2 separate regions of the Homo sapiens genome follow, and region 2 is linked to region 1. Evidence: fine-mapped expression QTL. A gene starts in region 1. The other region holds a variant in brackets. All regions are shown on one strand. Distances are from middle to middle. Region 1 holds the start of LINC01619 (long intergenic non-protein coding RNA 1619). Region 2 overlaps LINC01619 (long intergenic non-protein coding RNA 1619).

Region 1 (15,533 bases):
CTTTGGGAGGCTGAGGTGAGTGAATCGCTTGAGCCCAGGAGTTCAAAACCAGCCTGGGCAACATGGTGAAACCCCGTCTCTACCAAAAAATTCAAAAATTAGCCAGGCGTGGTGGAACGTGCCTGAAGTCCCAGCTATTCAGGAAGCTGAGTGGAAAGATAAGCTTGAGCCCAGGAGGCGGAGGTTGCAGTGAGCTGTGATCGCACCGCCACACTCCAGCCTGGGCAACAGAGTGAGTCTCAAAAAAAAAAATAAATAAATAAATAAATAAAAAGAGAGAGATAGAAAGCATGTAAAACACTTAGCACTGATGCATTGTTAATGATAAAATGATAATAACCTGCATTATTACTTTTGTTGTTAAGCGATGCTTCACTCCTTTTTCCTCCCACTCTCCAAACAATCTGAATAGCTTCCACCAGAAGAAACTGAGTTTTGTCTAAAATCATTATGTGTCACCCTCTGACTGAAAGTTCTTTTGTGTTTTGTGAATCGCAGTAGATCTAAACCCAGTGCAAATGTCTTAGCTTGTGTCCTTGGATTCTTATTCAAGCAGAGCAAGTCAGGGTGCTAGCAGGGAGGCAACTAAAAGTGGTCTTCTCCTTTCTGCGGGTAACAAAAAAATAGATAAATAAGAGGCATAGGTATCTAGTTGAAGACATAAGCCCACAAGAAAAGCTAACTTATTTAAAGATAAATCTGATCATATAATCTGTCTGCTAAAAACACTCTCAAGAGTACTCTCAAGTACCCTATGCCTGCCTCCATCTACCAGTTTTTTCAACAATACTTATCCTCCTTGGTTTATGCCTTTGAGATACTCCAAGATCAAGCCCGTTCCTTTCCTCCAAGGAGAACTAATCTTGGGTCACTTTCATTGGCTTAGCTGAGATCATTCACTTTTGGGGTTTTCTTATTTTCCCTCTGCCCCGCAACACACAAATAAATAAGTGCCCTGTCTCTATTTGCCATTAACACTCTCTCAAGAACTCTCACTTGACTCTGTACTTATTGGTTAAGTTGTGAGTTTTCTAGACACCTAGCACTCTATCTGGAAGTAGGTGCGTAATAAGCACAACTTTAGTGACTGCAGCTAGCTGACTAGCAACAGGCAGGTTGCCTCTGGCTCAGTCTGGAAGGCCCTGGCCCTAATGTGCCTTCAGGGAAAGGGCGGGTCCAACTGGGGAAACAATATCTAATATTTGTGCTTTTATTTGTCAACTTATTTTAAAACCCAGGTTCATTTTTTGAATTTGTTTTGACAGCATTCCTAAGATTTTTAATACTTTGATTAGAAATGTTCTAAGTTTTAGAAATTAATTAGACAGGCCAGGCGTGGTGGCCCACGCCTGTAATCCCTAAACTTTGAGAGGCCGAGGCGGGTGGATCACCTGAGATCAGGAGTTTGAGACCAGCCTGGCCAACATGGTGAAACCCCATCTCTACTAAAAATACAAAATTTAGCCAGGCGTGGTGGTGCATGCCTGTAATCCCAGCTACTCGGGAGGCTGAGGCAGGAGAATCACTTAAACCTGGGAGTCGGTGGCTGCAGTGAGCCAAGATCGCGCCACTGCACTCCAGCCTGGGTGACTGAGCGAGACTCTATCTCAAAAAAAAAAAAAAAAAATTTCATAAATTACTATCAAATTGCATGATAATAATAAAGTACTTGGGAGAGCCTTGGTAAACTTAGCACAACAACACAGAAAGCACCTTTGTAATTCAAAAGCTGTCCAGAAATACCTGCTTGTTTCCCAGATGGGAAGGGCCTGACTAAACTTCCAGAAAATGTGACTAAACATATATATGTCAGGAATTGAAAACTATTAGCAATGAACATTATGTACCATCTAAGGCTTACGTTTAAGACTAATGTTTATTTCCAGTTTTTTTCTGAGTACTCTGTAGATTCCCAAGTTAAAAATTACTGTAGTTTCTCAAATCAGTTTGTCTCCTAATGGGATGATTTAAGGTGGGAAACACACATATATAATTTGAAAAACTCAGTGCGGGAAGTAACTCTCCCTGAGTCTATGGGTTAAACTTTCTGTTAACCCTGTTCAACTGGTTTTATAAGGCTTTCAGAAGGGGTCCTGCTGCTGCTAGTGCAGGCAGTTAAAAATAGTATGGAGAACAAGGGCTTGGGGGAAGTCTGAGTCCAATCCTAGCATTTTGTTGATTTAATATTTCTGTTTTTTAGATGAGACAATTTAAGCACATGACCGAGAGGCCAAGTTGGAGACCAGGTTTAGAAGAGAAAAACTTTCACTTGACTCCTAATTTGTACTCAGTGACACATTAACGACAATGTAAGTGAAAGCAGGGAACTAAGGGTGGGTCAGGTTAGGTGGGAGACCAGGAGTTGTTATTCTAGTGTTATGGTAATTTCATGAATTTACTTTTGCTTCTCGATCTTCTTTTTGAGTAGTAAAAGAGGTTTCATGCCTCCAGTGAAATTACTATTTTTAAGCAGAGTTCTATCTGAAAAGTTCTATAAGAAAAAAAAAAACCACTCTTTAATTTTTTCACATGTAACTACTTAGTTATGTGTACTAATGAAAAAATAATCTAGAAGTTATTTTTTCAAATCGAGTTTTACATATTTTTTAAACAATAAAACGTTTTCTCCTGTTTTATAATGTCATTATTTTTGCTTCATTTCTATATCCTTTAGCTCAGTATTAAAAAGAAAAAAAAAACACTCAAAGTGGTGTGTTTTGCAATATTGATGATCAACTAAGGTCGGGATATTTATTTCCATCTGGTAGAGTTCAACTTCTGCCTCCTGTTTGCTTTCTCCATCTGCCTGCCTCCCTTCATCTTTCTTTTTTTCTTTTCCCCCTTCTCCTTAATGGAGTTGGGGTTAACCCTGTCTTAGGCCTAATCGTTTTAGCAGGCTCCCGCCTTCCTGTTACACTGGTTTTTAAGGTTGTTTTTTTTTTTTTTTGGTAGGGTTTCAAATAAACTTGAATGTCTACACTTAATACTTTCACAAGCTTCAAATTCTTTTTATTTTATTTTTATAAAGAGCAGGACTCAGGCTAGGACGGCATTTGGACTAGGTAAAAAAGAAAATCTTCAGTTTTGTGCACACAAGTTTTAAAATACATTGTACAGATTTTTTTTTTTTGGATACACACCACTCTTTACAGGATCCGCGTTATATCTGCTTTCAGTAACTGGCTCTCCTGTCCGCATCCAGTAAGGTTTCCACTCTTCTCTCCGTTGACTGCTGAAGTTACTGAAACAGCAACCACAAATGGCCTTACTAACCTACTTATTTTGCAATTAAACTTTTAAAAGATATCCCCCTACTCCTCCCCTAGGGTGGAACAGAAATGGCTCCGCGGCGTTGGCAGCTCGTCTGCGAGGGGACCCTGGCTCCCCGAGGCTGCAGTCCTTTTTCTTGGACAGAACGCCCCGCAGGACCGTTCCCTCCACTTTCCCCCGCACTAAGGCAGCGCACCGCCAGCACACACAGCGCTGGCGCCCGCATCGCGCCGCACCACACGCGTCTCCGGCTTGAGGAGCCAGTCACCGAGACCCGGAGCGGGAACGAGATGTAAACACGGAGTGGGGACATGCAGCCCGATCTGAGAAGGCGGCGTGAAGAGTAGACACAGCCTGCGCCAGGCGGTTCTTATTTACCCAGCACTTACACTCCAGGGCAAGCGGGCCCAGGCAGCGCACTCTTGGAGAAGGATGCACTGGCGCAGAGCCTGGACCTGCTGAAGCGGGAAGGAGGAGCTAGGGCTGGGGGCGGAGCTTTCACACGCGCACCCTCTGTTCCCTCCCTCCCTCCCTCGACACAAGCAACTGGGTCTCCAGCCGCCACTCCGGGTTTATTTGTTTACAAGCGGATTACGTCAGCTCCTCCCTCTCTTCCCTATCTCTGGACCCGCCTCCTGAACTCTTTTCCCGCCCCTTTCGGCTCCGAACCGGCTTGCGTCACAATGGTGCGATATTCGGATTGGCTGGAGTCGGCCATCACGCTCCAGCTACGCCACTTCCTTTTCGTGGCACTATAAAGGGTGCTGCACGGCGCTTGCATCTCTTCGCCTCTCGGAGCTGGAAATGCAGCTATTGAGATCTTCGAATGCTGCGGAGCTGGAGGCGGAGGCAGCTGGGGAGGTCCGAGCGATGTGACCAGGCCGCCATCGCTCGTCTCTTCCTCTCTCCTGCCGCCTCCTGTCTCGAAAATAACTTTTTTAGTCTAAAGAAAGAAAGACAAAAGTAGTCGTCCGCCCCTCACGCCCTCTCTTCCTCTCAGCCTTCCGCCCGGTGAGGAAGCCCGGGGTGGCTGCTCCGCCGTCGGGGCCGCGCCGCCGAGCCCCAGCCGCCCCGGGCCGCCCCCGCACGCCGCCCCCATGCATCCCTTCTACACCCGGGCCGCCACCATGATAGGCGAGATCGCCGCCGCCGTGTCCTTCATCTCCAAGTTTCTCCGCACCAAGGGGCTCACGAGCGAGCGACAGCTGCAGACCTTCAGCCAGAGCCTGCAGGAGCTGCTGGCAGGTGAGCAGGGCGAGGGCGTCGGAGGGACGCGGGCCCCACATCCCTGGGTCAGAGTCCGGCCGTCGGGGCTGCGGGAACCTCGGCAGCGCCCCGGGGCCGGTCGCGCTTGGGCCCCGCCGCGGGACCGGTGTGGTTGCGCTGGGTGGCCGCTAACAGCGGTTCCCCGCGAGGCTTTAGGGGCTGGACGGAGGGCGCCCCCTTCCCCCCAGCTGGCAAAACGGAGAGGAGAAGACAACACGCACAACAAAGAAACTTAAGCCCACCGAGGCGGGAGCTGCGGTCCGAGGACCGTCGGCGGATTTGGGGACAAAGGAGCCGTGGGGCTGGGGTGGGTTCGACGTCCCCTTTCCTCAGCCCCCTCCAACCGTTGCGTGGTCGGCGGCCCAGCCCCGGGGTGGGAAGCTGCGCCGCTGCCCCGGAGCCAGCTCAGAACGGACGTGCCGTCTCCCCGCGCCTCCTGCCCCTGCCCATTAATCATCGGATTTGTCACCGGCACAATTAACAGCCCTGCCCAGAGCGTGGTTTAGGGTTGCTTGTTTTTCTTCCCTTCGGGGTTAACAGTCCGGTGGCGCTTCTCATCTCCAAAGCCATCAACTCCATTGTGTGCATCTGGGGTGGGGTGGAGAAAGTAAACAGTTTCTCGCCTGGCCATAGGTGCCAGTGGCTTCCCGACTGGCCGAGGCTGCGCGCCTGATTCCTGTTTTGGCGGCTCAACCGGTTGGTTCCTGGAGATTGTTTTGTCCGGTACTACTGTGTTATTTCTAAAACCCTGCCCGCTTTTTCCATCCCCGCACATGCACAACAACGGATGCAATCCTGGACATTTTAAAAAGTTGATAGTTTTCATTTTCGCTCCTCAAAGGAGCCTGGGGTAGGAGGAATCCGCAGTGGGAGCTAACGATCCTAAGCGTTGTTTCTCTGTTCTTCTTTTCTTCTATAGAACATTATAAACATCACTGGTTCCCAGAAAAGCCATGCAAGGGATCGGGTTACCGTTGTATTCGCATCAACCATAAAATGGATCCTCTGATTGGACAGGCAGCACAGCGGATTGGACTGAGCAGTCAGGAGCTGTTCAGGCTTCTCCCAAGTGAACTCACACTCTGGGTTGACCCCTATGAAGTGTCCTACAGAATTGGAGAGGATGGCTCCATCTGTGTGCTGTATGAAGCCTCACCAGCAGGAGGTAGCACTCAAAACAGCACCAACGTGCAAATGGTAGACAGCCGAATCAGCTGTAAGGAGGAACTTCTCTTGGGCAGAACGAGCCCTTCCAAAAACTACAATATGATGACTGTATCAGGTTAAGATATAGTCTGTGGATGGATCATCTGATGATGATGGATAAATTTGATTTTTGCTTTGGGTGGGCTCCTCTTGGGGATGGATTATGGAATTTAAACCATGTCACAGCTGTGAAGATCTGGCACAAGATAGAATGGTAAAAAAAAAAAAAATTTTAAGTGACAGTGCCATAGTTTGGACAGTACCTTTCAATGATTAATTTTAATAGCCTGTGAGTCCAAGTAAATGATCACTTTATTTGCTAGGGAGGGAAGTCCTAGGGTGGTTTCAGTTTCTCCCAGACATACCTAAATTTTTACATCAATCCTTTTAAAGAAAATCTGTATTTCAAAGAATCTTTCTCTGCAGTAAATCTCGCAGGGGAATTTGCACTATTACACTTGAAAGTTGTTATTGTTAACCTTTTCGGCAGCTTTTAATAGGAAAGTTAAACGTTTTAAACATGGTAGTACTGGAAATTTTACAAGACTTTTACCTAGCACTTAAATATGTATAAATGTACATAAAGACAAACTAGTAAGCATGACCTGGGGAAATGGTCAGACCTTGTATTGTGTTTTTGGCCTTGAAAGTAGCAAGTGACCAGAATCTGCCATGGCAACAGGCTTTAAAAAAGACCCTTAAAAAGACACTGTCTCAACTGTGGTGTTAGCACCAGCCAGCTCTCTGTACATTTGCTAGCTTGTAGTTTTCTAAGACTGAGTAAACTTCTTATTTTTAGAAAGTGGAGGTCTGGTTTGTAACTTTCCTTGTACTTAATTGGGTAAAAGTCTTTTCCACAAACCACCATCTATTTTGTGAACTTTGTTAGTCATCTTTTATTTGGTAAATTATGAACTGGTGTAAATTTGTACAGTTCATGTATATTGATTGTGGCAAAGTTGTACAGATTTCTATATTTTGGATGAGAAATTTTTCTTCTCTCTATAATAAATCGTTTCTTATCTTGGCATTTTAATCAATCTCTTGTCATGATTATAGAGGTTTAGCTAAAAGTATTTTTTCTTAGAAGACAGGTTCTATAAACTGAATCTCTGTTGCACACTGGTCATGCTGGAAAAACATTTGATGAGGAATGAAGATGCTCTGTATATACATGTTTAGGTTTTACAGGAAACACAGGAGTAGCATGTTTTAAAAATTTCTAAAGTCAAAACATGGACACATTCACAGGCTAATGATCTCATGAAATAAGGATAAGAGACCACGGTAGCATCTACCAAAAATGTGATACTCAAAGGATTACATTTCATTGCTTCCCTGTTGAAGTGAAGATATAAATGTTCCATTCTGACCCACCTTTGAAAAACAATTACTTTGCCCCATGGATTCTTTGTTCAATTAGAAATTTCCCCGGGGCAGGTGACCCATAGTCTTAAAGAACAGGCTAAACACCACAGAGAGATTGGTTGCTTTTTGCTTTTCATCACCTGCAAGATGTACATAAAAATCACATAAGCTGGAATTCAACAAAAGGTATGTTTATGAACTTTTATTCTCAAAAGTTGAAATGCTGACTTTCTCGATTCCTCATTTTCAGACTTTTATTTCAGATAAATACTAAAAACCTAAGTGAACCTTGATAATGCTGTAGTGTAGATTACTTCACTACCCCATATAATAGAAGGACTTGCTGTTTAGTTGTAGAGGATAACAGCGTTTTTCAGTGGAAATTGAAAGTGGAAAAATTGAATTTTGCTCTACACAGTTAACATATAGTGGCCTTTTTTTGGTATATATGTAAACATGTTGACACTGGAAATACGCAGTCTGAAATAAAATTAGTAATTACTTGAAATTAGTAATCTCAAATAACTTTTAAGAAGTTATTTCTACACCCAGGAATAAATTATTCTGATTTTGTAGACAACACAGGAATAGGCCACTGAATATGCAGGTATTTAGAGTACAAATGTCTGTGGATATTATTGGCACACCATTCTCGAGAGTTAGAATTCGTAGACCCGCAACACATGGACTACCCTTGCCAATTGTTATGGTTTTATTTTTAAACCTATTCTGTGAAAAAGCTCCTCGGTATTTCAAACTTGAATTACAATAAAAACACCAGGTAGGGTTGTTTTTAAATGGGTCTCACCCCAGTGCTGACTACTGTTGTTTACCAACTACATTTCATCTGGTAACTCCATTGAAACTAAGTACCTCAACCATTTTTTTTTTTTATCATAAAGCCTTTTTTCAAATGGAAAGTTGTTTTTGAAGATCTTGACATCAGACTTTTTCAATCTTTGAAAATGATGGAAACAGTTAATAAAAATGTTTATTTTAGAATTCAGGTGATGTCTGGCTTGTGAGGAGCTGTTTATAAGTTTGTCTTTGAAAAAGGCTTGCACACATCACTCTGAGACCAGCTGTTTCCTGTGACTTTAACCTTACCTTCCCCAGACAATTGAGCTGAACCTGTATCTGCGGTACAGTAGCTGTTTGTGATGTATTTCTTGTTCACTGTTTCTGGGGAATGTTTTGAAATATTTTATTATAAATCCTTTTAAGATAGGATGACTACTTTCAAAATTATTGTTGCCTTTGGCACCAGGAATTCATAGTTGTGATTGGCAGTAAGTTTGAGGAGTGTTACTTTCTAAGTTTTAACAGGTAGTTTTGAAATTATTTCCTTTTTTCCAAATTTAAGTAGTGCCTCCCTCTGTAATGTTGAAACAAGGCTTCAAGTGGATTGTATAGCAAGAGTTACCCTGGTTCATGCAGGATAATGCGGCTGTTATCTTTGTCATCTGGAATGGGAATCTCATGTCTTTATCCTTATGTGCAATATTTCTATAATAATAGACTGGAAAGGCCACCAGAAAGTGGCTTTCAGGTACATTGCACAAATAGTTTCCTTAAGTCATTATAACTCACACATTGCAAGTAATTAATTTTGTTTTGTATAGGTGTTGCAGTTTATGAAATTGGCCTTCAAGTTAAAAGGAAGGAAGCCGTATTCCCGATGGCTAGTGTTTAATGACTACAGGTTTCCAGGCTCCCTTTAATCTTGGGAGCAAATAAATCTACTATTGGACTTCTCCCTGCGTGACTTTTAACATTTCTGATACTCTCTCTTCTTCCTCTTTACAGAAGAGAGGTATGATAACTGAAGTTGTACTTTGCATATTGAAGTTTAAAGATACTTCCTCTCCCCTTTTCACCCCTATTTCAAATGATGTGATAAAATCCTCTTGATAGGCTATATGGAGAACATTTGTCAATAGTTTTATCTATGCATGGAAGTCTTCAAAAAGTATATCTTGGATTGTCTAAAACTGAATAGATTTCTTATTTATCTGAAGGTATACAGACTGCCAACATTTTAGACTTATCTCTCAGTCTCTGCCACTGAACTTTTATATATGGCTGCTATCAAAATATAACCGGTTTATTTTCATATTTGGAACTAATATAACAGTATCACAAAATCTTTTACAGTAAGATAGTTTGTAATACCAGCCGACCCAGCTGCTTAACTGAGTCCTTAAATCATTTAATATATGGGACTGTAAATAGAGAAATCTGTACATTATGAGATCTGATTTCTGGTTATGCCTATAGATCTTTATTTTCTTTATCCCTATAGATCATTTTCTTCTGATGTTAAGTGTTATATTTTTGAAATGCTCCTAAACAAGTAAGCCTTAGATTGTATTAATCCTGAGGATTGATACCATTTCCTCAACACTTTGTGGAGTATGATTGACACCAGTTTTTTTTTGACTGCAGGTTTAACTTGGCTTATCACTTTTCGTATTGCTCAGTATGTCCAAGATAGGAATAAAAAAATGTAGTTCAACTTCTGACTGTTATTTATGAGCCTTTTCATGGTATTTATCATTTTAGTATTGAAGATGCAGTGTTCTTTTGGGAATTACGTATGCTTAGAAGAGAGTACTGATGCTCAAAGGTGAAATGATTTGAATCTAGAGTTGGATAAAAAGGGAAAGGATGGGGAAAATGAAAACTGGGAAGCTAAACTGAGAAGGAATTGCAAGGTTTGGTGATAAAAATTCATTTGCTATGGTCATAGTTGTGTATCGAGAGGTTTGCACAGCACAGTCTCTTGGCAGAGTTTAGGAATCTCTACTCTGGGGATTCTGCAGTTCATGAATCGTCAGGGAGACTCTGCATTCAATTTGTTTCTGTGAACATGCAGGTGAAAGTGGTAGTACAGGTGGAACTTCATGGGAACTGGTTTTGGGGGAGGTGTGGATGGAAAGCACAAATGTCTCAGTATTTTCTAAAGGGAGACTATTTTTAAAGGTGTCTTGTTACAAACCACTTGATTATAGCCTCTTTTCTTGTACCTTTAAGTTGTGAAGGCCATTTGTGACTCATTCCTGGTGGTAGAAAAATGACCAAGTGTAGGCCAGACATATAACATCACATTAGTACCATTATAGTTAACTGGATCCCTGTATTTGGAGAATATTACATCAAACACTATGTATAATTTCAAATTGTAGCATTAATAGGAGATACTTCACCCGTGAGTACATTTACTTTTAGTGATTCTCTAGATGGTCATCTCCAAAGTTATTTTGTCATTCTTTTAGAATATTTTTGTATGTATTTTCATGTGTGCATGCAAAAGCATGTGGCACATTTTCTAAACAAATATACATATATTTGACATACACTAAAAATTTTGTTGATAGGATGCATGATCAGAAACATTTAGAGACTATTTCTTTAGGTTTTCACTAAAGTAGATGAATATTTGCTCTCCCCAAAATAACTCATAATTATGTTCTTTAAGTGGTAAGTCTTAAAATGACAAGTTAGTGTAGCAATACAAAGAGGATTGCCTTGTATAAGTTTAACTTATTTGCATAAGTCTTTATAATAATAAAACTAAGTCATCCTTTACAGCCAACAGATATCCAAATTGTGTTACACCAATTTGAAATCTATGTTCCCATATATTCAACTATGTGTTGCTGTGTGTTGAAATTCACATTTTTGTTTCTCAGAAGTTTTTTTTTAAATCTTAGGGTCTTTGTAACATTGATATGCATGGTTGTAAGAGAACTGAATTATCGAAGTTGTAGATGGGTGATTTAATTATTTTAGTAGTTATGGCTTAGCAAGAAAGGCCCTGTATCTTTTCCCTCTTGTTCTGAGCCATCCCTAAATTTTTGAAGGAAAAGATGACTAACAAATTGGACTTTATTTGAGAAGATTCCATAAATGACCATAAGCCATAAAATGATTAGACTTGACAATTGCTTTATGAGCAGATTTGAGTACACTTTCTAGTAGTTGTCTTGATTTATGGCAGTTTTGTCCCAAGTCAGTAGACTAAATGGAGTTGTATTTCCCACAAATTGTACTTGTGAGTCTTCAAGTTATCAATATATATTCTAATTTGACCTTCCAACAACTGGATGAGGTTGGCAAGTGGGTCAGTATTTTTTATCTTCATTTTATGGATAGAAAACTGAGGCTTAGAGAGCTTAAGTAATTTACCCTAAAGCCAGACAGCTCGTAAACAGCTAATTCACAATTTGAATTCAGGCTTTTCTGATCACAGAATCCAAACTCTTAACTATTGTTACATTGTGATGCATGATTTATCTACCTTCTTTTACACTGTTGGAACATGTATTTTAACTTCTCATTGTGAGTTGGCCATCTTTGGTTATTTTCAGCCTTGAAACTCTTTCACTATGTTCCGGAGGCATATAGCAGTCTACAATTAGGCTCCTTTCTTTGAGAGGCAGTTGGAATTTAGCATAAAGAATACTAGTCTGGGACTCAGACCAATAAGTTGAAATCTTGACTTGTACCAACTTGTGACTTTGGACCAGTTGCTTAGCCTCTCTGAGCCCATCATTCCTTGTGTAATAATGGAGACAAGTCATTTGTTGTCAAGGTAAACATGAAATCATATAGCTAGTGAATGTTTGGATTCTTGGAATTTGAATACTCTATCATGGAGGCCAACAAAATATAGCTGATTGTTTTCTTGTGTGTGTGTGTGTGTGTGTGTGTTTTAACAATTTGATCATAGTATGATTGTTAGGAGTTTCTTGAAAGATTGCTTTAGCCTATAGCTGCAAGAAATGTACTTGCGTTTTTGAAATACAATAATATAGGAAGGAAAATGAACTGCTTTTCCATTGTGAAGGATGGAAATAGACAACACAGGCCTTGCATCTTATTTTATAGAGCTTTCCTGAGCTGTGTGCCTAACATTGTGGTTTTCAGAGCTATTTTCTCAGTAAAAAAAGAGTCCTTCAGATCCTTTGTCTATATTGAAGACACCTTAAGTTGAGAGATGGAGTAATGCAACCGAACATATATAGCAATGTAGCCCTGTACAAAGCATGTTTGCTTCCATTATGTTTTTTAATCCTCACAACAACCCTTTGCTATATGAAGTTGACTTTTCCCAGGGTTTTTAGTCCTTCAAACCATTGGTATTTGGCCATGCTTTTGCAAGAGATTTTCAAACAGTGATTTTTAAACAGAACTCAGTGGTTCTCAATCTTCTTAATCTAGAGTGGTGTGAGTATTTCCTTTACTGCAAAGAAAAGCAGCCTTTTTATAAATTGTCAGTTTGAATTTGAGTTTCTTCCTGTGATGTAACCTGATGCAATGTTTGCCTGAATCACTAATAATGTAACTGATTTCCCCTAGCCAGTCATAAATGAGTCAGTGATCACGGATTCTTTTAGTTTATACTCAAGTTGCTTTTTCTGTGTGCAGATATCCTCATTGAATAGCTTGCTGTTGGGCTTGTATAGCATTATGGTTTACATCAGGGAAGTAGATAGCCAGCAGAGCTTTGTGCTAATTTATTTTGCAATCCTATAGGAAACAAAGGACCCATTCTTTGTTGAACCTGAAGAGACTTCTAGGGAAAATCAGCCTCTGACCCTTTCAGAAGTCTTGCATCTTAAAGCTCGTGTGTGGTTCAGGCCATGCTTGAACCTATGTGTGTAGCCTTATAAGTCAGTCAGTGTGCCCCTATAATGTTTAAGATTGTGATGTAAGAATAAGAGTTTGGAACCCATTAAAACAAGGGTTAGGTGGCCAGTGTTGTCAGGAATATTTCTCTCTCTCAAGCCGGTAGTCATTGTTACAATTAAGGATGGAGCTCTTAGGTAATATCACTAGATACAAGCTCTTTTTCCCTCTCAGATTCTTGCACTTTTTTCCACTACCCTTTAAGTCTTTCAGTTATTTTTTAACTTTCTTAAGATATTTTCTGGTCATTAATATACAAGTGGTGTTTTGTCTTGTGTCTATCACCTATATCTCTTACATTCATTTATTAAACACATACTTGTTGAGTCCCTCCATGTGCCAAGTACTGTGATAAGCACTAGGGTTGCAAAAATAGTCACTGTGCTTGCCCTCAATGAGCTTGGAACCTAGTGGCAGAGAGAGGGTTATCCAACAAATGTTGGGCTGGATCTGAGACATGCTGAGGAAAAGGGAAGTGGTGAAGTGGTGTCCTGAGAGCTCTAATAGAGAGATAGGACTGCCATAGAAAGGTTTCCCAGAGGAAGGGACACTTGAGCTGAGATCTGAGGAATGAGTAGGGGTTTAAGTGGAGAAGGCAGGCGAGAGAGAGAGAGGAATATGCACAAAACCTGGCTCAAGAGTAATGGTGAACAGGAGGGGTTGGACAAAGACCAGTGAAACTGGAATGGAGAGAAATTAATGGGAGTGAGGCCAAATCGTGGGGCTTTACAGGTAGCGTGTCCATTTGATTGATAACCATTTGAGTGACCATTTTGGTTGATAAAATTTGAGAATTTTATCAACCAAACCGTGATTCTTGAGAGTAAAAGAGGGTGCTGTTAATTATTAAACACAGACTATAAGCATCAGCCAGGACATATGGTCACCTCGCTTTTATAGGCCTTGTTAACAGTATTATCTCTTTTTAAAGCGTTGGCAACCAGCAGTGTGTTTACTTCCTAATGAAGGTGTCAGGGAGTTGGTCCAAAAAGGACCCAAATGGAACTCAAAGGCTGGGTTTTTCCAAACGGCTAGATTGATTTTTTTTTTCCCGATACAGATATTAGTGACCCTTTAACGTTTTAAAAGTTTGGCATAAAAAGATGGATTTTATTGTGAGCTACTAGATTAGAGTCACTTTCATGGTGTATGAAACAGCACAATTCAAACAGATCTTGAATATTTTCTATATCTTTAAAATATAGCACTTGTCATTTTTGCAAAGGAGTTTTATTTAAATAGGATTTCTTTTCTTTTCTTTTCTTTTTTTTTTTTGAGACGGAGTCTCACTCTGTTGCCCAGGCTGGAGTGCCCAGACTGGAGTGCAGCGGCACGATCCCGTCTCACTGCAACTTCCACCTCCCGAGTTCAAGTGATTCTCCTGCCTCAATGTCCCAAGTAGCTGGGATTACAGACACACGCCACCATACCCAGTTAGTTTTTGTATTTTTAGTAGAGACGGGTTTCACCATGTTGGTCAGGCTGGTCTCGAACTCCTGACCTCAAGTGATCCACCTGCCTCTCAGCCTCCCAAAGTGCTGGGATTACAAGTGTGAGCCACTGCGCCCAGCCTAAATAGGATTTAAAAAATAGTTTCATTTTAGGTTTACATTTTGAGTATACGTACCTCCTGGACAATAACTTTCAAAGTATGGGCCACTTAAATTATTTTCTTTAAGTTGATGTAAAAATCTGTATAATCAAATGCAAAGAGTTCAGGGAATTTTGCACACCCATATAATCTACACCCTGATCAAGAGCTAGAACATTTTTGCCACCGCAGAAAATTCCGTTTTGGGACGCTTAATGTTTGATTCAGAAATATGGCTGTGGAGCCAGGCCTCAAATTAGAAATAAGTTGTTTTCCCTCTCCTTTTATAACTTTTATTTTTGCTTCCTAAACATGCGGCAGTGGTTACTTTAAACATGAAGCAAATTGTCTCCAGAAGAAACCGTTGCCTTTCGACTAGTTATGATTTAGGGGTTGGTAATATAGTACATCCCTGCCCAATTTGCTATGGGTTTTTCATCCTTAAAGTAAAATCTGAGTCATATCCCCATCACTGACTCATAAGCTTACTAAGGATTGCCTGTTTATTATTAGGCCTAAGCGTTAGAATCTTGATCAATCAAAAAAGATTGTGATAATGTCACATTTACATAATACCTTTCTCTCCTCCCCTATTTTTCATTTTAGCCTGTTTATGTCACTCTATAGTGAGTTATGAAAATAAGAAGAGGGGACAAGTGTCAAGCCAGTGTTATATAGCTGAGTCCTAGCCTTGAGTACTTCTTTTCCTCTCAAAATTCTCAACATCAGTTGCCAGAGAGCATTTAGAATATTGACCTAAGTTACAGTGCAATTCGTTGTGAAATTGATTCAATTTAAGGGTTATGTGTCACTGTCTTGAAAGATTCTTGAATCAGAGACAAAGTCTTGTCCTAAAAACACTGTTCTTAATGAGTTTGGGATCTACTGAGGGATAGTGATTGAAAAGGGAGCTTACTCCTTTTTCCCCCTGTAGTTTTCAGGTTCTCGTTTGGAACCTGATCTGGGACCAGATCTTGAATTAACTGTTTTTTTTTTTCCTGAGAGGGTCAATGTGGTCTGCTTAACAAAACCTCTGCTGTCAAAGCACTGGTGGGCTGTGGTGGTGGTTTTTAGGCATTTCTTTCTCAGCACAGCAATACATAATATTTCAGTACCAGTTGGGCTTTTTGCTTTTTTTTTC
Region 2 (15,533 bases), 110 kb after region 1:
TAAAAATTAGCATTAACTGAGTGCTTCCTAGGCCAGGCCAGCACTCTTCTGTGGGCTTTATGTGTATTATCTTATTCCTCACAAGGCCCAAGGAGAGAGTTATTCTGACGCTCATTTCAGGGCAACAATATCTAAGGCAGACAGAAGTTAAATACTTTGCACCGAGTCATACATCTAGGAAGTAGGAGAGCAGGAATTTGAACTCCTGAATTTGTGTGCTTAACCACTAATCAGTAGTTCCTTTGGATGGTAAAACTCTTCCTCTAGGCCTCTGGGAGATTGGTATGGGTCTCCACAGTGTGCTGGAAGCCACGGATATGAGTTAACCTATCAAGTTGCTTCTTTCTCTGCCAAACCTCAGGATCTTCCCAGTCCCTCCTTCTCATATCTCATTGCCTCTGTCCCACGCTTTCCTTTCCAGTGTTCCATTTCTTTAAGAGCTGGCTTGGGCTTGTTGGCAAAGGGCCAATCTGAGAACCTATTTCATAACCACATATAGTGAGAGCAAGTGAGTTAATATGTTCCAGATACTTACATATTTTTGGAATAGAATCTAACCAATATAATCAAAACTTATTATCATTCACAGGCAACAATCATTCTTTTATTCATTCAATAAACATTGAGTGTCTGTGATGGCCTGGGCACTGTGATAGGTCAACATTAGCATTTGTGACAGGAGAATTTTGGAAATGCAGTGCCCCATTCATTGGAGTGACTTTATGGTGGAAGCCACGGGCACATTGGCAAGCCGGCTTTTTGGCCCCTCTCAAGTCCGTTAACTCAATGGCCATTAACTCTGCTTATTTCAGTGGCTGGTCTCGCTGGCACCACTGCTAAAAAAAGTGACAGAATTTAATTCCATTATAAAAAAAAAAAGAAGACTTCATCTGGGGTTAGATGAATTTTTTCAGATATAGAGGATGCCATTTTTCTGACTGGGAATGTAAAATGTATGTAATAGAACTTAAGTGACCTGTAATTCAGCTTCACAAGAGAAGTTTACATTGGTTTCCGTGATGGGACTGGGACAATGTCTTTGTAGTTGTTAGTATTTTGGTCAGTATTTTTAAATAACTGGGTTTTTCTTTTCTCTGTTTCTTGCCGGTTAGCAAACCTATTTCTTTGGCCAGGCCTTGCCACTGCTGCACTGTTTCATTTTTTCTAACAGAACCTTGTCCTTATAGGTCAGGCAGGGTGACCATCATCTGCAAGCACTTTGTCCTCTCTGACTTCAAAACAACCAATTTATGATGACACGGACAAGTCAGGAGACTCAGAGCTAAAACGAACAGGATTTTGTAGATCTAATGAAGACTCTGTCAGGCCTCATTTTGATCTGGTTAATGAGGATCTGATTGAATTTGCCATCGTGAGGTCTTCTGGGCCAGTAAACGATTTCCCTTATTTTTCTGCACAGAAACAAGGATGAGGGCGAGTTGTCAGTGTAAGCATTTGTATGTCATAAGTTGTCAGACATCATGCATTTGGTGGATGATTTGCTAGGTCATCTCAGAGAGATCATTTAATCTTCTTGTGTTTTAGTTGTTTACATCTGTGAAAGCATAATTACACATATGGGGCTTCCAAGGAAAGTTTTATTAGTGAAAATATGTAAGGTGTATTAATTTGAGGGGCTTTTGCAAAAGAGCTTTGCATCACTTTTTGCTAGACAAAGTGTCATCTTGAGGCGGTATAGAAATTCGATGGCAAGATAGTCTGAGAAAAAGTGCTTGCCAAGGAAATATCAGATCTGAAGGAAGGGAGGGGTCATTCCTGGTATTCCATGCATTTGGAGGTGACTTCTGACAGGGCTTGTTGGTACAGTATTTTCTCTGAGAGAAAAACTGAAATCATAAGAACACCATTTGGGAGCCCAAATTCAATGTATCCACAATTAAAAAAGACAAATTCTTATATGCTCAGCTTCAGATTATGAATTACCAATAACATCTTGATGGTTTTGTTCTTTTGCTTTGAGGGGACTTTGGTGCTGAAAACACTCAAAACTCTGCTTTTCACAGGCAGCACGTAAACAACAGCAAACCTGGAAGATGTTAGTCCTTCAAGATGTGCAGGTTAGCACACTCTGGTTTCATTGTACTCTCTTATGATCCAGTAGCCTCAGATCCCCCAGACCAGGTATACTTTTATAAATACATACAGAACCAATCAATATTTATTTTTGGGTCACTAAAACTATTCTAGCAAATTCCTTAATAAGGTCTCTAGATGAAAATACATCTGAAACCAAAGAATAGTTTTGCTTTCACAACTTCCAGTTCCGATATTTTAAAACACTGATTTAAACCTTTTCATATGTAACAAGTGAGACTCGGGGGGGAACCCTGTATTTCACCTTGCTGCTTACCCACTCTCTTTCTCCTCCTTCCTCCACCCCCTTGAAACTGCAAGCATGAATTCTGTTGCTTTCATCTGTGTGAATTTCCCGTTGGCAGTGCCCCAACTCTCGGAATCATTCTGTTTCCCCCAAGGGAATCAGCAGATGTTCCTTGTGTGATTGATGTACCGTGTGCTGTTCGGCTTTGCCTGGGCTTGTCCACGTGTCCTCCAAAAATGTAAACAGAGGCGCTGCAACTGTGCCTCAAAGTGGCAGGCAGGGCGGCAAGTCGGTAACAAAACCAAACAAATGCAGGAAATGTTGCTCCTTCCTGCAGTATGTGCAGGAGGGTGGCTCTCTCATGATACAGTTCTAGCTGTAGTATCTGAACAAGGTGGGTTCTATGGTGTAAAAAGTCACTTGTTAAGTGCTGTGACAATTTGTCAATCTGTGTTACTTCACACTGAAAAAATTCCCAGCAATGTCATTTCTGCCAGTATCACGGGAAATAGTTATGTAGTTAAAGTTTTAAAAGCTAAGTTCACTGCATATTGTTTATAATAGTTCAAAAGTGGGATGGAATTAAATGTGTAACAAGAATTTGGTTAAAAAAATCATGATATGTGTCTGTTTATATCTCTTCCAGATATATCTATTTTTACCATTTAAAATGAGGGTGTAAAACAGTGGCCTTAAAAATTTTTGATTGTGGGCACCCTTGGGGAGCTCAATAAAAGCTGTGAACCATCTCCCTAGAAAAATCTCCATATGCTCAACATTTTCATGTAATATAAAGAGATTTAAACAGGAACCTGTCTATCACTCAAAGGTTAAGAACTCCTAGTATTAAGAATTTAGTAGAAATAATATTTAATAATTTAGATATATGGAGTAGTGGAACAAGCAAGTTATAAAAGTATGATTCAGCCAGGTGCAATGGTTCATACCTGTAATCCCAGCACTTTGGTTGGCCAAGGCGAGAGGATCACTTGAGCCCAGGAGTTTGATAACAGCCTGGGCAGACTCTGTCTCTACTAAAAAAAAAGAACTAGGTGTGGTGGCAGCATGCACCTGTAGTCCCACATACTCTGGAGGCTGAAGTGGGAGGATTGCTTGAGCCCAGAAGTTCAAGGCTGCAGGAAGCCACTGCACTCCAGTCTGAGAAACAGAGCCAGCCCCGTGCCTCAAAAAAAATAAATAAATAAAAATAAAAAAAAGACTATGATCACATTTTTGTAAAAATAACCCCACCATATATAGTTAAAAAAAAGGGGTGGGGGCTTTGAAAAGCTGAACATTTAGATGCTAATGATGGCTTCTCTGGGGATGATAAGTTTTCTCTGCAAGTCTTCTTTTCTCTTTCCCTTCCTCCCTCCCTCCTTTCTTCTTCTCTTTCTTCATTCATGTCTCCCTCTCTCCCTTCTTCTCCTTGTTTTCCCTTATTTGTATCTTCTAACTTTTCTACAATTAAACAAAAACTACCTTTATGAAAAGAAATATGTCATGTAAGTTTGTTTTAATTAAACAAAAATGCTGTAATCAGCTTTGGCAAGTATGTTAGAACATCTGGGGACATTTCCAGCACCCCTCTTCATTCACCGCATGGTGAAACACTAGGAAGAAGTCACATTAGAATGAAGGGACACTATTTCTGAGTGAGACATGGTTAGGGCCATATAAAAAGAAAGCAGTTAGATAGATATATTTTCAACATAAAATACAGATAAAACATATTTAAAAGAGTCAAAATGAATCAAAATAAATACGTGCCCAAACCATATGTGGTGACCAAAAAGGGCCAGCTACATGTAAACTTTAGCTTGACATCAAGAACATTTCTATTCTTGGAACGTCCTTTGGTGATACCTATGGCAAGTCAACATCTTAAGGGGTTATGAATCCAATATTCCTATTTCTTTCACCTTAGAAGGGAGAAGTTGTTCCATCTTTGCAGACCTTGTTCTCTCAGTTTGAAGGTGAAGTTTGCATTTCATCTGTTTCTTGGCAACTATCTTTAAGAAAACAAAAGTTAAGTTTTGGACTGCAAGTATATCTGCTTGGCATTCATGCTCTCTTTCTTGAGTAACAGGCCCCCCTTATCTTCTTCGGGTCACTCCCTTCTCCCTTTTTCAATTCTGTGGGTTTAGTGTGGCTGGCATCACCCTCCAGCTCCAGGTTGAGCACACGACTCAAGCTTGGTCAGTTTGAGTTCTCCCTCTCTCTCTTCCTCTCTATCTCTCTGCCACAGTGATTGGTCAGAGATGGAAGGGCATATGATCCAATAAATGAGGTATAGAGAGCGAGCTTTTGATAGGGCCAAGGTTTCTCAGGTGGGAAAATATAAGTGTAGAATTGTTCTGAAAAAAGGCTGCAGAAGAATGAAGGCAAAACAGCAAAACAAAGGCACAAGATGGAAGAAGGTGGGGAAAAAGATTCGGGTGAGCATCAAGACCTGGGGCTTCATTTCAGTGCCCAGGTCCATATGTGCCTGAATCTAACTTGCCGTTGAAGTTTTCAATCATGTGGGGCAACAATTTTCCTTTTATGTTTAGGTCAGTTTGACTGAGATCGGTTTTACTTACAATCAATTGAGTCCTGATTAATATACTGATTTAGTAATAATAATAATACTTACTGAGTATGTCTTAAGTGACAAAACTTGTATACAACCTTTATATGCATTCTCTTATTTAATTATCACAATAGTTCTTTTTAAGAAAGGAAACAGGTTCAGAAAGGTTAATTCACTTTCATAAGATCCCTTGATGAGTAGAAGTAGACCCAGATGAAAACCAGATATGTCTGATTCTAAAATTCTATGCTCAACCAGCTATCAACTAAGCAGTGATACTTGATAGAAGTTAGGCCTGACAGCTCCTGGATTGCACATCTTAAGCCTTCATTTTTAACTGCAGTTTACAAAGGGACTCACTGAGGATGAGAAATGAGTATTTACTAAGCATGGCTATTTTTAGGCATTAAACTTACTTCATTTCCTTGTTAGTGCCTCCTTTCATTATTATTATTTTTTGCTTTCCGAGACTAGACAATGTTTAACAGAAGAATCCCAACCAGCTTCTGTGCCTTCATTCAGTTTGGTGGAAACCAATTTACCTGATGCAAACTAATTTAATCTATAACTGCTTGGGGGCTCACTTCAGCTGTAAACAAGTAGACCTGGAGATTAAGCATGGTTCCTTTAAGAATCAAGGAAGAACTAATGCACACTCCCACCAACAGTGTAAAAGCATTCCTATTTCTCCACATCTTCTCCAGCATCTGTTGTTTCCTGATTTTTTAATGATCACCATTATAACTGGCGTGAAATGGTATCTAATTGTGGTTTTGATTTACATTTCTCTAATGACCAGTGATGATGAGCTTTTTTTCATAGGTTTATTGGCCACATAAATGTCCTCCTTTGAGATGTGTCTGTTCATATCCTTCGCCTGCTTTTTGATGGGGTTGTTTGTTTTTCTCTTGTAAATCTGTTTAAATTCCTTGTAGATTTTGGATATTAGCTCTTTGTCAGATGGATAGATTGCAAAAATTTTCTCCCATTCTGTAGGGTGCCTGTTCAACCATTGTGGAAGACAGTATGATGATTCCTCAAGGACCTAGAACCAGAAATACCATTTGACACAGCTATCCCATTACTGGGTATATACCCAAAGGATTATAAATCATTCTACTATAAAGACACATGCACACGTATGTTTATTGCAGCACTATTCACAATAGCAAAGACTTGGAACCAACCCAAATGCCCATCAATGATAGACTGGATAAAGAAAATGTGGCACATATACACCATGGAATACTATGTAGCCACAAAAAGGATGAGTTCATGTCCTTTGCAGGGACATGGATGAAGCTGGAAACCATCATTCTCAGCCAACTAATACAGGAACAGAAAACCAAACACTGCATGTTCTCACTCATAATTGGGAGTTGAACAATGAGAACACATGGACACAGGGAGGGGAACATCACACACTGGGGCCTGACATTGGGTGGGGGTTCCAGGGGAGGGATAGCATTAGGAGAAATACCTAATGTAGATGGCAGGTTGATGGGTGCAACAAACCACCACGGCACTTGTATACCTATGTAACAAACCTGCACATTCTGCACAGGTATCCCAGAACTTAAAATACAATAATAAAAAAAAAGAATATAGGAAGAGTGCCAGGGTTACTTTGGCACTCTTCCTATATTGGTATGTTGTTATCAACCCAGAGTGAGCTTTCTTTTCATTAATAAGGTGAAAATAAAGAGGTGTATCAGTTCTGCACTGCTCCTTTCTCAGGCAGGGTTTTCTTAACTCTTCATAGAACAGAAACGTTCTCTCTTGAAGATTGAAGACAAAGGTAAACACTTGCCTGGGAAATATGGTTTTTGACTCTAGCTTTGAGGTTCATGCTGTACTCAGAACATCCTGTTCTTCTCAACTGACTGTG[A/G]TGTGGTAGATAGCAGTCCCTCCCGGGCTGTTAACAGCTGAGCTCATTTTTCATAGATGCTGCTCAGTGAGGCTGAGGAAATGGGCCACTGCTGCTTCCTCCTTTGTCACTCTTACCATTAAGGATGGGTACTCCCGGTTTCTTTGAGAAGGCACTTGCCATCTTCTCTTAAATTAGATCTTTAATTCCTTTGAGATATTTGGCAAACTTAGATAGTACTGGAAGCTTAGTGAGTGGAAAAGAAATCTCAAAAAATCATTTGTTTAGCATAGGAGAAAGCTACTCTGTTGAACCCTGCTGTGATAGAGTTAGGAAACGAAGAGTGGCTTCTGGGAAAAGGTGTAATAAAGCCTGATACTGAGAAAAGACAGCATTAGTAAAGTCATCCAGCTTTTTAGGAACTGGAATTTCTGACTTCTCAATGACCCCTTCAGTAAGAGCTGGAGAAGTGGCTTTTTGTGCAACAGATATGTTAACTTCCGAATAAACCTGTGTTTAGTAATCACATCTATCACAAACACACAAATGTAATAAGAAAAAAAGTTTCATTTCTGTGGTCAGGAACCTGATGCAAAATTATTCCATTGCATTTGGAGATTATAAAGGCATAAGTGGAATAGGGGTGGCTTCTGCTGGTCACCAGCAAAGGAAGCTGTTTCCCTTCTGCCTCCTCTGCTGTGTTGCAAAGTGTCTGCTTTGTCATCCAGGAGATGGACAACAGTGGTGTCTGTTTTTTGGATGGCATTTGTTAGAGAGCATAAGGTATGTCCTGTGACTCTGCTTCTCACTGGGCAGTTCCAAAACTTGCCTTAGCATTGGAATAATGAAACTGCTTTAATAAGAACAGTGAGATCCTTTGTCAAACCCAGACCGGTTGAAAAGAAACACATAAGAATAAGGCCTGTCCATCTATAATTTTACACAGGTTATTCATACTATAATTAACCAGGGAGTCACTACTCTTGTCTTGCCTCATTGGGCTGGATAAATTAATCAATCAAATTAGCAACTTTTGCCACGCATTCATTAGGATGTGTAGACATGACTCCAGGGCAGGCCAGTCTTCAACTAGGAGCAGTGGGTAGGGAATGGAAGGTGACAATTAGAAGGATATGCCAAGGCTGAGCCAATGTAAGGAGCATTGAGGCATCATATAGGAAAGCCCAATATAAGATGAAAAGGATTCCTGGGATGTTCGTCTGCATGGATTTTAAAGACTGGGTTGTTAAAAGAACAGAGAGTGGCAAAGCCCACTTTGCTTCATTCAAGTTAATCAACATATCTCATTTCCATCTGGCCATAATGCTCACCATTTTTATGGTAATCATCATGGTCAGCAATCAGAGATGTGTGTTAAAACCCCATTCCTTCCAAACAGAGATGTGAAACAGAGGAAATCTAAGTCAGATATTTCAATGCAACATGTATGTAGGTGGTAGTGTAGTCTCCCTTTTACACCTAAGAGAGCACATCACATGCCCATTGACTCATTCCGTTATTTAATTAACCATCATTTATGGTTGAGCAGAACCAGTACTAATCAGGCATGGTGCCACATAGTGGGGAACAAATGAACATCTATTTTGCCCTCTAGATAGTCACAGATCCATGGATACATAAGAAAAGATGGAAGAAAGAAAAGGGCCGGCTCTCACTGGGGAGGAGAAGAAGGTGTGCTAGAGAAGGTGATGCCTGAACAAGGTGTTTAAGAATAAAACAGAGATTCCCCTGGGAAATGAGCACAGTCTTCTTAGACAGAGGCAATAGCTTGGACAAAGGCACAAAGTGGCCTGGTGGGCCTGAAGAAGTCTGTGTAATTTGCTATGACAGTGTGAGAGGGAAAAGTGGTGGGATGTGATCTGCTGATTTGGCAGCATCCAAATCATGCAGGGTCTTGAATGTTTCTGCTTCTGTTCTAAGGTAAAGAACTTGGCACAATCCAAAGACCTGAGCTCATAAACACACAGCAGAGGAGAACAGAGGCTACTCAGTTAAAGACACAGAGGAGTATCAACTAATTCTTGCGTTCATTTTGCACACACCTTGAGATTGGGTTTGTAGGAGTCTACCTCTCAGAGAAACTGGGTATTATAATAATACAGCAACTCATAACTTTTAGAGAACTGCTATATATTTTTCCTTGACTGCAGAATATGTTTTGAAAAAATGAATACCATTTCTAGCTTTAACTTTAAGATGCCTTAATTTGAGAGACCATTAGTCATGAAGGTGTTTCCATAGCAAATGTGTGTGGGATGTCCTAGCTTTGTTGGCAATGGTTCAAGGGAACTTATATCATTAAATTGGGATGAGGCCTGGCATGATGGTTAGAAAATTCATGGCACTGTTCCCATAGCACACGAGGCCTCCATTTAAGGGCAAGATAAAGGAAAGGCAAAGACCAAGAGGAGAAATGCTGGAATGAAAACAAGTAAAAAACGGAAGATAAAAATGGAAATCACAGTTCAGTGTGAATAATAGGAATGCAAATGGTACTACTAAAATAGGAAGGAACATTACTTTTCAAAAAGGCAAAGCAAAGGAAAATTGTAGTAGCAAAAGCATTTTGCATGGTAAAATTGTACACTGTGTATGCCTGTAAGAAGCAAAGCCACCTACTCTAATTTTTCCCAGCTCGATGCTGTGAATTTGGTGAGTCATTTTATGAAGGTTTACTATAAAGCCCCAATCTGCATATTTTTAAAAATAATACTCTTGGATTAAATCTTCTTTTTCCCAGCAGCTGCCTACTAATGGTCCCATTTTATAGACAAAATTTTTCACCTGGGCTAGTAAGTAACACACTTTTAAAAAAAAAAATCAGTAAGTTTATGGAATAACCCCTAGGGCTTACTGCTAAGTAAGAAAAAGTCATGGTGAAAAAAAATGTGTCCACCATGCTACTATTTAACTAGGAATCTGAATACAAATTTGCTTATGCTAAAAGCAATTGCAGGAAACGATTATTTATGGAGGAGGGTGGAAACCAGGTGGTGGGGGACAGGATTCACAGCTAGATATGTCTGAATCTATTTTGTTTTTGTTTTGAATTCAAAAGCATATAAATGTTTAACACGACTATAAAAAATAATCATGAAACAAAGCAATCTCTGAAATTTGAAAGCGAAATGACATGAATGAACCTAAGTCTCAAATTAGTGGCATACTCACAGAGAGGAATGATTTCAAATGATACAGTATGTAGATATCTCCTAAGAAAAAGAATTGTGAAACAATTTTACATTGTTTTTTAAAATTATTATTGATGATAGTGTTGTTACTGTTTACATCTGCCTGCCTGCCTTCCTGCTTTCCTTCTTTCCTTCCTTTCTTCCCTCCCTCCCTCTCTTTCTCTTTTCTCTCTCTCTCTTTCTCTCTCTCTGTCTCTCTCTCTCGTTCTTCTTGAGACTGTTGTGTGCATTATGGGATAAAGCAAGTGAAATTATGTTGGTATCAGGAACTAGGATTTTTGGTATGGAAGAAAGGTAATTTAGATTTAAGAGAAAAAACGTTTAAGTAAAAACCTTGTAGTCTTGGCCAGCTGTGGTGGCTCACACCTATAATCCCAACACTTTGGGAGGCCAAGGTGGGAGGATTGCTTGAGCCCAGGAGTTTGGGACTAGCCTAGGCAACACAGCAAGACCCCATTTCTACAAAAGAGATTTTTTTTTTAAATGGCTGGGCATGGTAGTGCATGCCTGTAGTTCCAGCTACTCAGAAGGCCAAGGCAGAAAGATCGCTTGAGCCCAGGATTTCAAGGTTGCAGTGAGCTGTAATTGGGCCACTGCACTCTAGCCTAGGTGATGGCCAGAACTTGTCTCAGAAAACAAAAACAGAGCCAAAAAGAAACCTTCTAGTCTTTAAATTATATTGTAATTATTAATTGAAATTGTGATGTATTTTAATGTAAAAATATAAATTCCCTGGCTCTATTGACTGAAAAGACTTAGCAATAATGACAAGGTAGGTAAAATGAGTATCTCTGGGTTCATTTACTAGGTTCAAAATCTAGTGCTCAGACTGTGAGCACTAAAAGGAACCTGGGATCTTTGGGCGAGAACTGATCACAGATCTGGGGCAGGAATTGTGTAACATGAACCTGGAATAATTTATCATACTGAAGGGCAAGAGAGCTAGCAGTGACTTTTGGGGCTATGTCTAAAACACTTTGGAGCCAGCTAGGGAAGCCTTTTTCTAGGCAAAGATGAGATGATGTGAGCCTCAATAAAATAATAATAACTACAAGAATTAAAACAATCAACTATGTTTTAACCTATAGTGTTTCCAAAACATACACACACACATGCACATGTGATTGAATAGTTAGTAATATTATATATTATTGTTAATCACCTCTAATTATGATAATGAATTGTGCTTAGATTTAAGGAAAAGTTCTTATTTCTGATTATATATGTATATATCAAATATATTCATCTTCATATATATTCATTCCTATATATATATTCATTTCATCTTCATGTATAAATTCATGTATATCTTCATATATACATATACATATGAAGATATACATAAGATGAAATGATGTGATGGCTTGGTTTTGCTTCAAAATAATCCAGTGGTGTGGGGGGGAATGGAATTAGATGGGGGTGTAAATAAAACAAGTTTGACTGTGAGTTGACAATTATTGAAGCAGAGTACATGGAGTTTATTATATTCTTTTTTCTTTTTTGAATTTTGAAATTTCAAAATATATTTGAAATTTTTCATATAAAAAGTTTAAATAAATAAATTGCTTTGCTCATCTCTCCCTGTAATCTGATGAGCCTGCTTTCCAGTGTATTTTCATGCCTCCATGGGAACTACTCAGTAAATGTTTGCAAGTCATCACGCTGCTGTTGTTGAAGATATTTCTCTAGCATTATTGAAGATTCTCATGGGGGATGAAAATTGAACAGATAGAGAAATGAATTCTAGGCGTAATTCAAGTCACTTAGTGGGTAACTCCTTTTGGACAGTTATGAGCTTTCAGACTTGAACATTTGATGTTTGGAGTTCTAAAAGAGACTCCCGTCTCAAAGCGAAAGACAGTAGTCTTCTTATCTAGGAGTAATACTTCTATGAACCACAAAGAAACAAAGTTTCTGAACTCAACTGGTCATGAAAATTGGCATGATGTGGTCTCATGACTGATTACATCCTCAATTGCAGGAAGACTCAATTGCTAATTATTTTACCATAAAGCAGTTGAGCTCATGACTATCTTTGGTCAGTAAGTATTTGTAATTCTTTACTAGCAAACTCCATGCTTCAGTGTATGGCATTAAGTCACTCTGAGATATTTGCTGTCATGCTGAAGGTTTTAATGTGTATAATCTTTCATTTATGTGGTACCTTTTCTTGTATTATTGATATTTTTCCTCTCAATTTATTTTTTCTGAAACAATAATTCAGATCTCTGATCTCCTGTGTATAATCCTATAATTGTGTTTTTTCCCCCCATTTGTTGTATTTTCCATCTCTGTTATTTCGATCTAATTTCTGGGCAATTTCTACAACTTTATGTTTCTAATTCTACCTACTTAAAAAATTCTGGTCAATCAGAAAGAATCCTTTCATATATTTCTCATGGTCTCTTTAAAAAATAGCATCTTATTCTTGTTTGATTTGTTTTGTGGATATAATATCTTTTTATATTTCTCTGAGGTTATAATATTTATTTATTTATTTATTTATATTTAGGGAGTACAAGTTTCTCACATGCATATATTGTATGTGAAGTGGTGAAGTCTGGGCTTTCAGTGTACCCGTCACCCAAAGAGTGAACATTGTACCCAATATGTAGTTTTGCAACCCTCACCCCCTCCTACCCTCCCACTTTTTGAAGTCTCCAATGTCTATTATTTCCCTCTGTATGTTCACATGTACCCATTGTTTAGCTCCCACTTATAAGTGAGAACATGCAGTATTTAACTTTCTGAGTTATTCACTGAGGATAATGGCCTTCAGTTCCATCCACGTTGCTGCAAAAGACATAATTTTATTCTTTTTTATGGCTGAGTAGTATTCCATGCCATATATATATATATATATATATAAAACATATATAAATACATACTTTATATACTTATATAAAAATGTATTTTTTATATTTATATAAAATGTGTGTATATATATAACTTCATTCAGTCTCCATTGGTGGACACTTAGGTTGATTCCATATTTTTGCTGTTGTGAATAGTGCTATGATAAACATATGAGTGTAGGTATGTTTTTTATATAATGATGTTTTCCCTTTGGGTAGATACCAAATAGTGAAATTGCTGGATTGAATGAAAGTACTAATTTTACTTATTTGAGAAATTGCTATAATGTTTTTCATGAAGGTTGTACTCATTTACATTCCCACCAATAGTATGTAAGCATTCCCTGAAAGTGTAACTTTTTAAGAGTTTTATTCTGCCCTTTGAATTATCTCTTTTCCCTCCGAGTTATATTATTTATTTATTTATTTATTTATTTATGTCTTTGCTTTTCATCTTGGTGGCGTACTTTAATACCTGGTAATCTTTGGTTGACTCTTCACAATAAGAATGATACTGTAAATAGCTGATCAAATGCTCTGTGTATGAGGCTGAGTCTTATTGACTGCTGAGTTTTCTAGTAACTAACTCATTAATTGGGGGCCCCCAAGGCTGATATGGCATAGGTATCATTCATTCAGAGAGGTACCAGGACTCTCAGAACGCACTGGTCATAAACAAATCATTCAAGAAGACTGTGTGTACAGACTGAATTCAAACTCAACAGTAGTTCTGTCTCTTAGACAGGATGGTTTCCTCAGAGAGGACTTCTCTAGTCTCCTGTCTTGGGTGAAATAGGAATAATAATCCCACCGTCAAATTTGGAGGGTTCTGGGAGGCCATTTTTTTTTTTATGTGTCCATGGATCTGTTGCCTAGGCTGGAATGCAGTGGTATGAACATGGCTCACTGCAGCCTCAACCTTTTGGGCTCAAGCAATACTGCCACCTCAGCCTCCCAAGTAGCTGAGACTACAGATACACACCATCATACTTGGCCGTTTTTTTTTTTTTAATTTTAATTTTTAGTAGAGATGGGGTCTCACTATGTTGCCCAGACTCATCTCTAACTCCTGGGCTCAAGACATCTTCCCGTCTCAGCCTCCCAAAGTGTTGAGATTACAGGCCTGAGCCACCATGCCCGGCTAGCGGGAGTTCTTTCCATAGGATTTCATTTAATCTATTAGCTGTGCTTCCTGTTCCTGGAGCTCAGAGCTTCTCAGATTTAATTTCTCCAGAATCATTACTTTTCTGTCTTCTCAGCTTAGTTAGAGGTAATCACCTAGATATTGGAATAAGGGAGGACACTTGGGGGTCTGATTGTTTTTTATTTAGTCAGACTTCCTTCTTCTTCTTCTTTTTTTTTTTTTTTTTGAGACAGGATCTGGCTCTGTTGCCCAGGCTGGAGTACAGTCAGTGGTGAGATCTTGGCTCACTGCAACTTCTGCCTCCCTGGCTCAAGTGATCCTCCTACCTCAGCCCCCCAAGTAGCTGGGACCTCAAGCGCATGCCACCACGCCTGGCTAATTTTTGTATTTTTGGTAGAGACGGGGGTTCGCCATGTTGCCCACGCTGGTCTCGAACTCCTGAGTTCAAGTGATCCACCCACTTCAGCCTCCCAAAGTGCTGGGATTACAGTAGTCAAACTTCCTTCTAAGAGTTCATTCTTCAGTTCTACCCTTTACCCTCACCTTCAGAGATACTCAGAGCCTCCAATTCCTAAGTCATTCTGGGTTTCTTTTGCACAAATTGTCTTGCTTCCTGTTGGCATGCCTCTCTTCAGGCATAAAATTTAGCCTTTTCAGATTTAGCAAATCAGTTACCACTTACACAGCTGCTTTCTTTATTCTTTCATTTCTTTTTTCTTTTCTTTTCTTTTTACCACACTTCATTTGCTGTCATTTCCTTTCCCATTCTTTTAGCTTTTATTGGTTTAAAATGTCTCTTTGTATGTGTGTGCATACCTGTGTACGTGTTTAATTTCCTTTTTTTTTTTTTTTTTTTTTTGAGACAGAATCTTGCTCTGTAGCCCAGGCTGGAGTGCAGTGGCGCAATCCCAGCTCGCTGCAAGCTCCACCTTCCGGGTTCACGCCATGCTCCTGCCTCAGTCTCTCGGGTAGCTGGGACTACAGGCACCCACCACCATGCCCGGCTAATTTTTTGTATTTTTAGTAGAGACGGGGTTTCACCGTGTTAGCCAGGATGGTCTTGATCTCCTGACCTCCTGATCCGCCCGACTTGGCCTCCTAAAGTGCTGGGATTACAGGCATGAGCCACCACGCCTGGCCTGTTTAATTTACTTTTAAGTTTTTAGTAGCACTCTAAAATAAAATAAAGTAAATATGTAGACTTAATCCATTAAGTTTAACCAGAAGTTTTACTTTTAAATTCTTAAAATATGCCTCCAACTATAATTAGTTTTTGACTATAGAGTTCATCAGCATTTATGTGTACACATATAATGTACACATTTATGTGTACACATATAATGTACACATTTATGTGTACACATATAATGTACACATTTATGTGTACACATCTTACACATGTAGCTCCCGTCCTCATATCTAAAATAAAAGCTGAAATTAAAGAAAAAAGATTTAAACTTAACTATATATATATTTTTTTCTTATCATGCTTTCTTATATCCCACATTTTTCTTTATCTTGGAATCTTAGTTTTGTTGGCAT

Evidence for each region. PIP is the estimated chance that this variant, and not a neighbour inherited with it, causes the effect.
Region 2: its variant is fine-mapped to the expression of LINC01619 in whole blood (TOPMed, PIP above 0.99).

What each region holds. Positions count from the first base shown.
Region 1 is chr12:92,134,370-92,149,902 of GRCh38, reverse strand. It overlaps LINC01619 (long intergenic non-protein coding RNA 1619), which reads left to right and starts at 7,072. Exons shown (of 5, transcript NR_132341.1): 1 at 7,072-7,296. It overlaps BTG1 (BTG anti-proliferation factor 1), which reads left to right and starts at 4,057. Exons shown (of 2, transcript NM_001731.3): 1 at 4,057-4,515; 2 at 5,456-9,625. The coding sequence starts at 4,368. The coding sequence ends at 5,823. BTG1-DT (BTG1 divergent transcript) reads right to left here and starts at 3,818. Exons shown (of 3, transcript NR_135036.1): 1 at 3,660-3,818; 2 at 3,141-3,241. RefSeq lists enhancers at 3,406-3,705, 4,540-5,076, 5,036-5,085, 5,346-5,395, 5,416-5,655 and 2 more and a silencer at 4,296-4,615.
Region 2 is chr12:92,022,090-92,037,622 of GRCh38, reverse strand. All of the region lies in intron 1 of LINC01619 (long intergenic non-protein coding RNA 1619), which reads left to right. Among named protein-coding and RNA genes, the nearest start is that of LINC01619, 110 kb to the left of the region's middle. RefSeq lists enhancers at 2,323-2,632, 2,356-2,650, 15,526-15,533. The variant A/G (reference allele first, on the strand shown) is at 6,802.